Linked DNA regions of Homo sapiens. The protein of the gene in region 1 interacts with the protein of each later gene in a biochemical or structural test. Each region holds a gene or a part of one and is shown on either strand. Other genes may lie near its edges. The genes, in order: PDGFRB, PTPN22 and RPS6KB2.

Evidence for each region.
Region 2: of the proteins of PDGFRB (region 1) and PTPN22, one has a biochemical effect on the other in vitro, tested with the Homo sapiens proteins (one large-scale study listed by IntAct).
Region 3: of the proteins of PDGFRB (region 1) and RPS6KB2, one has a biochemical effect on the other in vitro, tested with the Homo sapiens proteins (one study listed by BioGRID).

Annotation. Positions count from the first base shown.
Region 1 is NC_000005.10:150,131,789-150,135,435, reverse strand, and holds part of PDGFRB (platelet-derived growth factor receptor beta isoform 1 precursor), read left to right. Parts: intron 1-419; coding exon 420-686; coding exon of another isoform or gene 687-720; intron 721-1,427; coding exon 1,428-1,555; intron 1,556-1,675; coding exon 1,676-1,850; intron 1,851-2,493; coding exon 2,494-2,686; intron 2,687-3,341; coding exon 3,342-3,457; intron 3,458-3,647. UniProt on the Homo sapiens protein: Tyrosine-protein kinase that acts as a cell-surface receptor for homodimeric PDGFB and PDGFD and for heterodimers formed by PDGFA and PDGFB, and plays an essential role in the regulation of embryonic development, cell proliferation, survival, differentiation, chemotaxis and migration.
Region 2 is NC_000001.11:113,861,594-113,865,240, reverse strand, and holds part of PTPN22 (tyrosine-protein phosphatase non-receptor type 22), read left to right. Parts: intron 1-963; exon of another isoform or gene 964-1,043; intron 1,044-3,647. UniProt on the Homo sapiens protein: Acts as a negative regulator of T-cell receptor (TCR) signaling by direct dephosphorylation of the Src family kinases LCK and FYN, ITAMs of the TCRz/CD3 complex, as well as ZAP70, VAV, VCP and other key signaling molecules.
Region 3 is NC_000011.10:67,427,158-67,431,313, reverse strand, and holds the start of RPS6KB2 (ribosomal protein S6 kinase beta-2), read right to left. Parts: upstream 2,821-4,156; 5' UTR 2,769-2,820; coding exon 2,691-2,768; intron 2,333-2,690; coding exon 2,292-2,332; intron 2,195-2,291; coding exon 2,074-2,194; intron 1,788-2,073; coding exon 1,719-1,787; intron 1-1,718. UniProt on the Homo sapiens protein: Phosphorylates specifically ribosomal protein S6. Seems to act downstream of mTOR signaling in response to growth factors and nutrients to promote cell proliferation, cell growth and cell cycle progression in an alternative pathway regulated by MEAK7.

The DNA.
Region 1 (3,647 bases):
ATCATGGAACCAGCCTGGCTCAGTCGGGGAGTGTGTTCGCACCCACTCCTTGGTCTGGGTGATCTGCCTGCTCCCTGCCAGTCACCCTATTCCTGCCTCCCAAGAACTCTATATTCTCAGCTGCTTCCAATCTGCTCCCTCTTGACCCCACATCCCTTCTTCCCCATTCTCCAAGCTCCAGATATCAGCTGCATTTCAACTTGTGACTTGCCTTCTTTCTTACCCTGGCACTGTCAATATCAAACATTAGAGCTGGAAGGGACCAGCTCTAACATTTGATTTATGCTCTTCTGGGAGCATCCCTATTCTGTAACGGGGAGACAGAGGGCCAGAGATGGCAAATGACTTGCCACACAGCAATTCAGGGGATGGCCAGAAACCCAGTTCCCCTGATTTATTCACGGCTCCACTCCTGGCAGATCCCACCGTGGGCTTCCTCCCTAATGATGCCGAGGAACTATTCATCTTTCTCACGGAAATAACTGAGATCACCATTCCATGCCGAGTAACAGACCCACAGCTGGTGGTGACACTGCACGAGAAGAAAGGGGACGTTGCACTGCCTGTCCCCTATGATCACCAACGTGGCTTTTCTGGTATCTTTGAGGACAGAAGCTACATCTGCAAAACCACCATTGGGGACAGGGAGGTGGATTCTGATGCCTACTATGTCTACAGACTCCAGGGTGAGCCCCCTTTCTGGCCTGATGCTCAGCAGAGGCAAGTATAACCCTCCACAGAGGAATAGCCCTTTACAGTTTACAAAGTGTGGGACTCCACTTCCCAGTGGATTCTCACCACAGCCTTCGAAGGAAGATAGTGTTTTCCCCATGTTACAGAAGAGGGAAACTCAGGCGCAGAGAGAGGATGGAGCTTGTCCCCTGTCGCAGAATTCGATAGTGGCAGAGCTGGCCTGTGCAACATGGTCGGTGAGGGCACAAGCTTCAGAGCCAGCTGGGTCGAAATCCCAGCTTTGCTATTTCCTGTCTGAGTGACTTTACACAAAGCACATAATCTCTCTGAGCCTGCTTCCCCTCTTGTAACGTGGGGATAACAATGGCTGCCTACCTCATAGGATCAATTGTGAAGATTAAATAAAAGATGGAGAGTACCTGGCACATGTTATGTGCTCAATACATTTCTCCTGTACATAGATCTCCAGAGGGTACTTTGATTTCCAGACTGTTATCCCTTCTAGAACGTCAGCTCCATAAGAACAGAGATTTTGTCCACTTTGTTCACTACTGTTGCTCCAGTGTCCAGAATAGTACTTGGCATGTAGTAGGTATTCAGTAAATATTTGTTGAATGAATGAATCTTCTACATCAGTCATCCTTTCCCTCTCTAGCCCCCTACCCTATCCCCAAGCTGAAGTGCTAGTGGCTGGTGGTGACTTCCCCAGACCTAAGCCAATCTCTCTCTACCAGTGTCATCCATCAACGTCTCTGTGAACGCAGTGCAGACTGTGGTCCGCCAGGGTGAGAACATCACCCTCATGTGCATTGTGATCGGGAATGAGGTGGTCAACTTCGAGTGGACATACCCCCGCAAAGAAGTAATGTGGGGCCAGGCAGGGGTCGGAGGAGGGGCCAGGAACGGGTGGATATCTGGCTTGCAGGCTGATTTCTCCCCGGCCCCTCCTGATTTGGGGGGCCTGCCCAACCTGTTGCTGCAGAGTGGGCGGCTGGTGGAGCCGGTGACTGACTTCCTCTTGGATATGCCTTACCACATCCGCTCCATCCTGCACATCCCCAGTGCCGAGTTAGAAGACTCGGGGACCTACACCTGCAATGTGACGGAGAGTGTGAATGACCATCAGGATGAAAAGGCCATCAACATCACCGTGGTTGGTGTGTGCCTTGGGCTCAGCCCAATCCCCAATTCCTTCAACGCTCCCCACCCTCACCCACTTTGCTGGGTGCAGAGTGATGGTGAGAGTTGCATTTTTGATACAGTGATCAGGGCTGAGCTGGACCCAGTGCCTGTCACAGCCCCGGGGTATAGTCAGCCACACTCCAGTGCAGCCCTAGCTAGCCTCTGTGCCAACCAAAACCCCAATTCCAGGATAAACCCCAAACCAAAATGTAGTGTCAGCCCCAAATCCAACCCTATCTCAACCTAGACTTTCTGACTAGCCAGAGCCCCAGCCCCAACCTGACTTCCAAGCCCAACTGCCATCCCAGGTCCGGGAAGCCCCATCCCCAAATTCAACCTTATCACTAGTCCCAGCATCAGCCACAGTACTGACCCAGAACAGAGAACTGTTAGTACAACTCTGTTCCCAACCTGGGAGCTGGCCCCAGCATCCATATTAGCCCCAAATTCGGCCCCTTCTCCAGGCCCTGTCCCCAGCCCAATTTCAACCTCAGCTCCGGAAACTCCATGGCTGGCACGGTCCCCAGGCCTGAAGCCCCACCCCACAGGCTGGCCTCCTTTGGGATTCAGTTGGTGCCCTGCCCCCAGGGCCCCGCCCCTGACGGTCACCCCTTGCAGAGAGCGGCTACGTGCGGCTCCTGGGAGAGGTGGGCACACTACAATTTGCTGAGCTGCATCGGAGCCGGACACTGCAGGTAGTGTTCGAGGCCTACCCACCGCCCACTGTCCTGTGGTTCAAAGACAACCGCACCCTGGGCGACTCCAGCGCTGGCGAAATCGCCCTGTCCACGCGCAACGTGTCGGAGACCCGGTGAGCAGCTCGCTCTCCCATCCCATTCTTGAAGTTATTTTTCTTTGCAGCCGCCAGGCAGCCCTCGGCTTTCAGCCACAAACCTAGGCCCAGCTTTCTGAGAGCATATTAGGTGCCAGGTGCTGGGGATGCTGCAGCGACCAGAGCTGACAGTTCATCCCTCCTAGAGTTTCTAGTCTAGTGGAGGAAACAGTCGCCGGTCAGATGATCACCCAGATGTTTAGTTGTCCTTGTGATGGGTGGGGCCAGCAGTAGCAGCCAAGAAGTAAACGGGCAGATGACTGGGGAAGAGGGTGCCAGGCAGGCCACTCATGGCCTGTGGTATCCCTGAGGCTGGAGATTTGCTGGCTGACAGAGACTGTGGTAGGTTAGGATGGAGCAGTGTCCACCTTTCTGAAGGGGAGAGAAATAGGACTTTCCTTCAATGCTCCCCACCCCCACCCACAGTTCATCTCAACCCTCCCTCTTGGCCTAGGGGAACTGCCTGTGGGTGAGGATTTACGAGACCTGGTTTGAGTCCCGGCTCTGCTACCAATGCCGAGATGACCTTGGCAAGCCCTTCCCCTCCCTGGGCCTTGTTCCTCTTTATACCAGGAGGGTGGGGAGAACTGTAAGAGTCCTTCCGACTCTGACAGCTGCCTTTCCTGCTCCCCAGGTATGTGTCAGAGCTGACACTGGTTCGCGTGAAGGTGGCAGAGGCTGGCCACTACACCATGCGGGCCTTCCATGAGGATGCTGAGGTCCAGCTCTCCTTCCAGCTACAGATCAATGGTGATGAGCACGCCCCTCGCCATGTCCCTGCTCCTTCCCCTCCCTGCCCCCGTTCCCTCTCCCTTCCTGCACTGTCCACCCACCCATGGGAGGAGTGGGAGAGGGAGCCTGGAACTCAGGAGATGGATTCTAGGCCACTGACCCACTGCCGTGTGAACCTGGCCTCTGGGCCTCAGTTTCCCCAGCTGTA
Region 2 (3,647 bases), on another chromosome or scaffold:
GATTATTTTAAATCTGCATTTCCTTATATACGTTTTCTGTTCATCTACTTTCCACAGTAACAACAGCTAATCCATAGAACTGTGTTCCAGACTCTGTGCTAAAAGTGCTTCACAAATAGAACTTCATTTACCTCCCAAAGAACCTTTTAAAATGGCTATCAATGTCCTACATGGTGTCTCTCCAGCTTCTTATAGCATGCTCATTTTCTTGTCCTTGCCATGCTTCCTCTGCCATAGGGCCTTGCACACATGTTGTTACCTCCGCCTTGAACATTCCTCACACTCCTCTTTACCTAGATAACATTTGGTAATTTTTTTTTTTTTTTTTTGAGACGGAGTCTCGCTCTGTCACCCAGGCTGGAGTGCAGTGGCACGATCTCTGCTCACTGCAACCTCTGCCTCCTGGGTTCAAGTTATTCTCCTGCCTCAGCCTCCTGAATAGCTGGGACTACAGGTGTGTGTCACCATGCCCGGCTAATTTTTTGTGTTTTTAGTAGAGACAAGGTTTCACTGTGTTAGCCAGGATGGTCTCTCGATCTCCCGACCTCGTGATCTGCCCACCTTGGCCTCCCAAAGTGATTATAGGCGTGAGCCACCATGCCTGGCCTTTTTTTTTTTTTTTTTTTGAGACAGGGCCTCACTTGGTCATCTAGGCTGGAGTGCAGTAGTGTGATCATGGCTTACTGCAGCCTCAACCTCTAGGGTTCCCATCTCAGCCTCCCAAAGTGTTGAGATTACAGGTGTGAGCCACCATGCCCGACTAATAATTCTTTAGATCTCAATTTGGTGGTCAATTCTTCAAAGAAAGCTTTCTTTTCTTTTCTTCTTTTCTTTCTTTTTTTTTTTTTCTGGAGACAGGGTCTTGCTCTGTCACCCAGGCTGGAGTGCCGTGGCTTGATCATAGCTCACTGCAGACTTGACTTCCTGGACTCAAGTGATCCTCCAGCCTCAGCCTCCCAAAGTGCTGAGATTACAACCATGAGCCACCACACCTGGCCAGAGAAAGCTTTCTGGACCTCTTTGAATAGATCAAATCTTCTATTGTAAGTTCTTATTAGCACCATTTGTTATTTTTCATAGCACTTACCACAATTTCAGTTTTTTGTTTGTTTGTTTGTTTGTCTGTTTTGAGATGGAGTTTTGCTCTTTTTGCCCAGACCAGAGTGCAATGGTGCGATCTTGGCTCACCGCAAGTGACTCTCCTATCTCAGCCTCCCGAGTAGCTGGGATTGCAGGCAAAGTTGCAGTGAGCCGAGATCGCGCCACTGCACTCTAGCCTGGATGACAGAGTGAGATCCCATGTCAAAAAAAAATATATATATATATATATATATTTATTAAATATAAAGGATTCATTGAATCCTAACAGAAAGAAGATACCTAGTTCTGAAGGCCAGGTTTAGGTGCTAACAGTTTAAACTATACTAGAAATCAGACTGGTACTATTGCAACTTCTGGAGATTCATTAGAAGACCAGAGACATATCAAAGATCTGGCTACATCTTGGTTCTATAAAGGAGACATAGATACATCCTGGTTCTGTGTATATTATAGTAATGATACTAACCAAACAGTTATCAACAAGGTACTTCCTACAGAGCAAGTGCACAAACATCTATGAATTGACACTACTCATTCCTGTGAATCAGCCTATCACTTGAACATATTTATCAGCATTTCTTGACCTTTGTGCACATTAAGGTGCAATTTTTAAAAATGCCACCACCAGAATAAATGTATCACATCACCTCTGAAGCTGATTTCTCTAACACCATCTCCAGCCTCTCACTAGGGACCATCTAGTCCTACATTTTCATTTACTCACAGGACACTTAAAACACATTTCTTGGCTGAGCGCAGCGGCTCACGCCTGTAATCCCCACACTTTGGGAGGCTGAGGCAGGCGGATCACTTGAGGTCAAGAGTTCAAGACCAGCCTGGCCAACGTGGTAAAACCCTGTCTCTAATAAAAATACAAAAGTTAGCTGGGCATGGTGGCAGGTGCCTGTAATCCCAGCTACTCAGGAGGCTGAGGTGGGAGGATCACTTGAACCTGGGAGGCAGAGGTTGCAGTGAGCCAAGATTGCGCCACTGAACTCTCTGCTGGGTGACAAGGCAAGATTCTGTCTCAAAAACCAACCAACCAACCAACAACACACACATTTCTTGCCATTTTCTCACATTTTATGTATCTAAAGTTGAACCTCTTGGTTTACTCACCCCAATTTAGCTATTGCCTACCCACCTACCCATTTGCCCCACTATTGCACTGGAAACTAACCTCGATAAGTTTGTCAGTCTTGTTGAAGATGATTGCATTGCACGCTCGTACAATTCAGTCTTGTCCTCCATTCCTACTGGTAGTTCTCCTGATTACTGGATTTAGAAGCCTGAGCTCCTAATGCCATTCCTTACCACTTGTACTTCTTCTGTCCTGATGGAGGCTTGGTATAATACTGACCTATATTTGCAAGGCACTGAGGAACTACCTTGCAGAGTTCTCGAGACAGCCAAACTTTGTGTTCTCCCACCTAGCACAGGAGGGCCAAGTTTAATTTTCCTCTCCCTAAAATGTATCTAAAATGCTACGTCTTCTATCCAGTAATGTAGTCCTTCAAGGCAAAGATATCGTGGTCTTGTGCTTTCTTTTACTTTCTGTTCTTTTTTGGGAGTGACTTTATTTTATTTACTAGTCTGTGAGAATAACATGCAAATGACTCAATCCGAATTTCTAGAATCTAATACTCCTTGTTATACTGGCCAGGATCCCCATTCTCCTCTCCTTTCTTGAAACGAAAGGGGTAGTATCATCTACAAACCAAATGAACTTACTATTAGCTTATCAAGCACACACAGAATCTGGTTTCTCACACATTCCACCCTATTTCAGGGCCCACGAGGGATGTTGAGCTCTCTCTTCACTTTATTCTCTTTTTTATTTTTATTTTTATTTTTTTTGAGGCGGAGTCTCACACTGTCACCCAGGCTGGAGTGCAGTGGTGTGATCTCAGCTTACTGCAATCTCTGCCTTCCAGGTTCAAGCGATTCTCCTTGCCTTAGCCTCCTGAATAGCTGGGATTACAGGGGTCTGCCACCATGCCCAGCTAATTTTTTTTGTATTTTTGGTAGAGACGGGGTTTCACTATGCTGGCCAGGCTGGTCTCGAACTCCTGACCTAGTGATCTGCCTGCCTCGGCATCCCAAAGTGCTGGGATTACAGGTGTGAGCCACCGCACCCAGTCTCTTCACTTTATCCTCTTGGCAACTATTCCCCTGACTTCTCTTGATGGTACTTCCTCTAGGGAACTCACACCCCTACCTTGTAGTTGGCAAAGAAATACCTTCACCCTTTAGATCTCATATCTTTTCTTCACAAACTTAAACCCATCCCCATGACCCTGCTTCCTCTTTTATACCCTTTTGCTTTCTACTTTCAGGGTTCCTCCTTTTCTGGTGTAGTTTATTACTTTTTCTGCCCTAATTTTGCCCTAATTTGTTCTTTCTTGGGATATTGGAGCCCGGGAGTCTGGCAGGAAGAGAGGTGGAAGAGAAAAATGAAGCCTGCCGGGCGCGGTGGCTCATGCCTATAATCCCAGCACTTTGGGAGGCCGAGGTGGGGGGATCACTTGAGGTCAGGAGTTCAAGAC
Region 3 (4,156 bases), on another chromosome or scaffold:
TCACACCTGTAATCCCAGCACTCTAGGAGGCCAAGGCAGGCGGATTACCTGAGGTCAGGAATTTGAGACCAGCCTGGCCAACATGGTGAAACCCCATCTCTACTAAAAATAGAAAAATTAGCTGGGTATGATGGTACACGCCTGTAATCCCAGCTCAGGAGGCTGAGGCAGGAGAATCGCTTGAACCCAGGGGCAGAGGTTGCAGTGAGCTGAGATCACGCCACTGCACTCCAGCCTGGGTGACAGAGCGAGACACTATCTCAAAAAAAAAAAAAAAAAAAAAATGGGGGCAACCAGAGCTCCTCAGACCATCCATCTGTTTGTTAACTGCTGCATCCTCTGTCACTGCATTGTATTTCTCCATAATTCTGCTGCTGTCAGCCACCATCATTTTCAGGGATGGGTTTATCCTCTAACACAGGGTTTCTCAACCTCGGCACTACTGACACCTGGGACCAGGTCATTCTTTGTTGTGGGAGGCTGCCCTGCGCATCGTGGGATGTTCAGCAGCATCCCTGGTCTCCACCCACCGGGTGCCAGTAACACTCCCCTCTTGCCTTGACAATCAAAAATGTGTCCATGCCAGGCGCAGTGGATCACACCTGTAATCCCAGCACTTTGGGAGGTTGAGGCAGGCGAATCACCTGAGGTCAGGAGTTCGAGACCAGCCTGACCAACATGGTGAAACCCTGCCTCCACTAAAAAGTACAAAAACTAGGCCAGGCACGGTGGTTCATGGCTGTAATCCCAGCACTTTGGGAGGCCAAGGTGAGCGGATAGCCTGAGGTCAGGAGTTCAAGACCAGCCTGACCAACATGACAAAAACCCATCTCTACTAAAAATACAAAAAAAAAAAATTAGCCAGGAGTGGTGGTTCACGCCTGTAATCCCAGCTACTCAGGAGGCTGAGGCAGGAGAATCACTTCACCCTGGGAGGTGGAGGTTGCCAGTGAGCCGAGATCGCACCACTGCACTCCAGCCTGAGTGACAGAGTGAGACTCCGTCTCAAAATAAGTAGGTAAACAAATAGAAATACAAAGATTAGCCAGGTGTGGTGGCACAAGCCTGTAGTCCCAACTACTCAGGAGGCTGAGGTAAGAGAATTACCTGAACCCGGGAGGCAGAGGTTGCAGTGAGCAGAGAGTGCACTACTGCACTCCAGTCTGGGGAACAAAGCAAGACTCCATCCAAAAAAAAAAAAAAGCTAGGGACGGTGGCTCATGCCTGTAATCCCAGCTCCCAGCACGTTGGAGGCCAAGGCGGGCAGATCACCTGAGATTAGGAGTTAGAGACCAGCCAGGCGAAACCCCACCTCTACAAAAAAGTACAAAAATTAGCTGGGTGTGGTGGCAAGCGCCTGTAATCCCAGCTACTCCGGAGTCTAAGGCACGAGAATCGCTTGAACCTGGGAGACAGAGGTGGCAGTGAGCCAAAATCGCGTCACTGCACTCCAGCCTGGGTGACAGAGCAAGACTCCGTCTTAAAAAAAAATAAAATAAAATAGTGTCCAGACACTGTTGTCAAATGTCTGCTGGGAGTCAAAATTGCCCCCATTGAGAATTACTGCAAGACAATACACATCACAACAGACAATAAACCAGCAAACGCCAAAGTCAGGGATCCTCCTCCACTGTGTTCCCTGCTGTCTTCCCAAAGCCTGGTACAGCATGTTGGGAATGGCAGCCACACAGTATTCGTTGGCTGAACGAGTGACTCACCTTCCTTAGGACTTTCATGGCATATATTTTGCCCAAGTTGGTGCCTTGCACCTTTCGCACCTGGAACACCTGTAGGGCAGGGGAGACAGGATCAACTTCCCTCTCCACATCCTATCTTCAAGAAGCCCCACCCTGAAGCTCTGGCTTTGGGATCAGGAGGCCTAGGCCCTGCCAAGGGTGGGGCAGTGAAGATTTCAAGTCCGATTGGAGAGGATTTGGCCTTCCCTCCTTTATGTTTCTGGCTCTGAATCCCATTAGAGGCCCTGCTGATTCACAAGTCTAATTTGTTTTGAGAACCCTTTGCTGCCTCCAGATGGAGGCTGTGAGGCCAGGAGGAGGGTGCGCCCGCCCCTACCTTGCCATAGCCCCCCTTGCCCAGCACACGCAGCAGCTCAAAGCAGTGGGGCCCGATGCGCTCTGGGCCAACGTTCACGCTGGTCTCAGTCAGCTCCACCTCTTCATAGTGTCCCACAGGCCTACGGACACAAGGAGTTAATGAGGACAAGGCTCCAGTGCTCCCCAGTTCCCCTTCCCCACTCCATTCCCCCCTCCCCCAACACGACCCTCACTCACTCTAGGCCAGCTGCCCTCAACTCGGCAAGGGGACATGCGTCCTGTGAGAAACCGAGGGGTAAGAGCCAAGGAAGGTGCCAGGATACCTCCCCGCTCCCGTTCAGGTTGGACTGCGTGGCCCAGGAGAGAAGGGTGTCAGGGATGGCAGCTAGTAGGGGATGGGTAAGAATTGGGAAGAAACCGAAGGCAGGAAAGGGAGAATCGGGAGAAAAGGCTGGGGTTCTGGAAGAGAGGTCGGGGTGAGGGTGGGATCAGAACTTAATAGAGACCGGGATCTGAGAAGGATCTGGGTCTGCAAAGAGTCGGAGCCCGCTCTGGGCGTGCGGAGCCGCCGCTCCGGCCTCGGCTGGGTGACAGGATCGGCTCCAGGATCCAGTCGCGCCAGGGCAGGGCACTCACCGCGGGGCTGAGCTCTGGCTCGCCCTCGCCCTCGCTGCCTTCCTCCGTCTCCAAATCCAAATCAAACACGGCCGCCATGGCGGCGCCGGCCCCGCGGGCCCGTCGGCCCGTACCTGGCCGCGCACTGACTGACAGTCCCGGACCTAAACATCATCTCTCCGCGACGGCAGCTGCGCGCGCCGGTGACGCAAGGGATCTTACTCCCCCTCCGGAAAATCGCTTAGCCTGGTGGGGAACAAAGATGGCTTCCGTCGCAAGGCCTCTCGGGAATTGTAGTCCTAGAGTGGCGAGGCGCCTAGCCTTCAGCCTGCAGAATCCTTTCCGCAGGACCCTCGGTCTTCCCAGCAAGGCTTTCTGGGAGCCCGTTTTGGTTCTACGGTGTTTTGAGTTTGGATGGAGCAGGGTCGGAAGTGTATGCAGGTGTGAATGTAAATGCAATCCCCAGCCCTGTTGGAGACGGGTACTGCCAGGCCGGCTGCGTGATGAAAGGCAGGTCGCGTTGCTTTCGGTTCACTCCAGAAAGGGAGGCGGCTGCATCAGGGTCTCCTCAAAGTGCCTCTGGCTCGAGGACCCTGCAAATCGGAGCATTTACTGAGTGGCCAGCTCACTGCCAGGCTATGTTGCCAGGTTCCCGCCTTAAATAGGGTTTTGGGGGTCAGTGATAGACCTGTAAATATGGGATTTTGTTGGCGTTTACTCCCTTCTTAATTTAAGCACATTTAGGCACCTGGTACAGAATAGACACTTCAAAAAACGTTGTTGAGGCCGGACACGATGCCTCACGCCTGTAATCGTAGCACTTTGGGAAGCCAAGTTGGGAGGATCACTTGAGGCCAGGAGTTCAAGGTTACAGTGAGCTATGATGGTGCCACTGCACTCCAGGCTGGGTGACACAGTGAGATCCTGTCTCAAAAAAACAAACAGGCCGGAGGCGGTGGCTCACACCTGTAATCTCAACACTTTCGGAGGCCGAGGTGGGTGGATCACTTGAGGTCAGAAGTTGGAGACCAGCCTGGCCAACATGATGAAACTCTGCCTCTACTATAAATACAAAAAATTAGACGGGTGTGGTGGCGCGCACCTGTACTCCCAGATACTCGGGAGGTTGAGGCAGGAGAATCGCTTGAACTCGGGCGATAGAGGTTGCAGTGAGCCAAGATTGCACCACTGCGCTCCAGGCTGGGCGGCAGAGTGAGACCAAGTCTCAAACAGATAAAACCCGAAAACCTGGCTGGTCACGGTGGCTCACACCTGTAATCCCAGCACTTTGGGAGGCCGAGCCAGGCGGATCACCTGAGGTCGGGAGTTCAGGACCAGCCTGACCAACATGGAGAAACCCCGTCTCTACTAAAAACACAAAATTAGCTGGGCATGGTGGTGCATGCTTGTAATCCCAGCTACTCGGGAAGGCTGAGGCAGGCGAATCACTTGAACCTGGGAAGCGGAGGTTGCGGTGAGCCAAGATC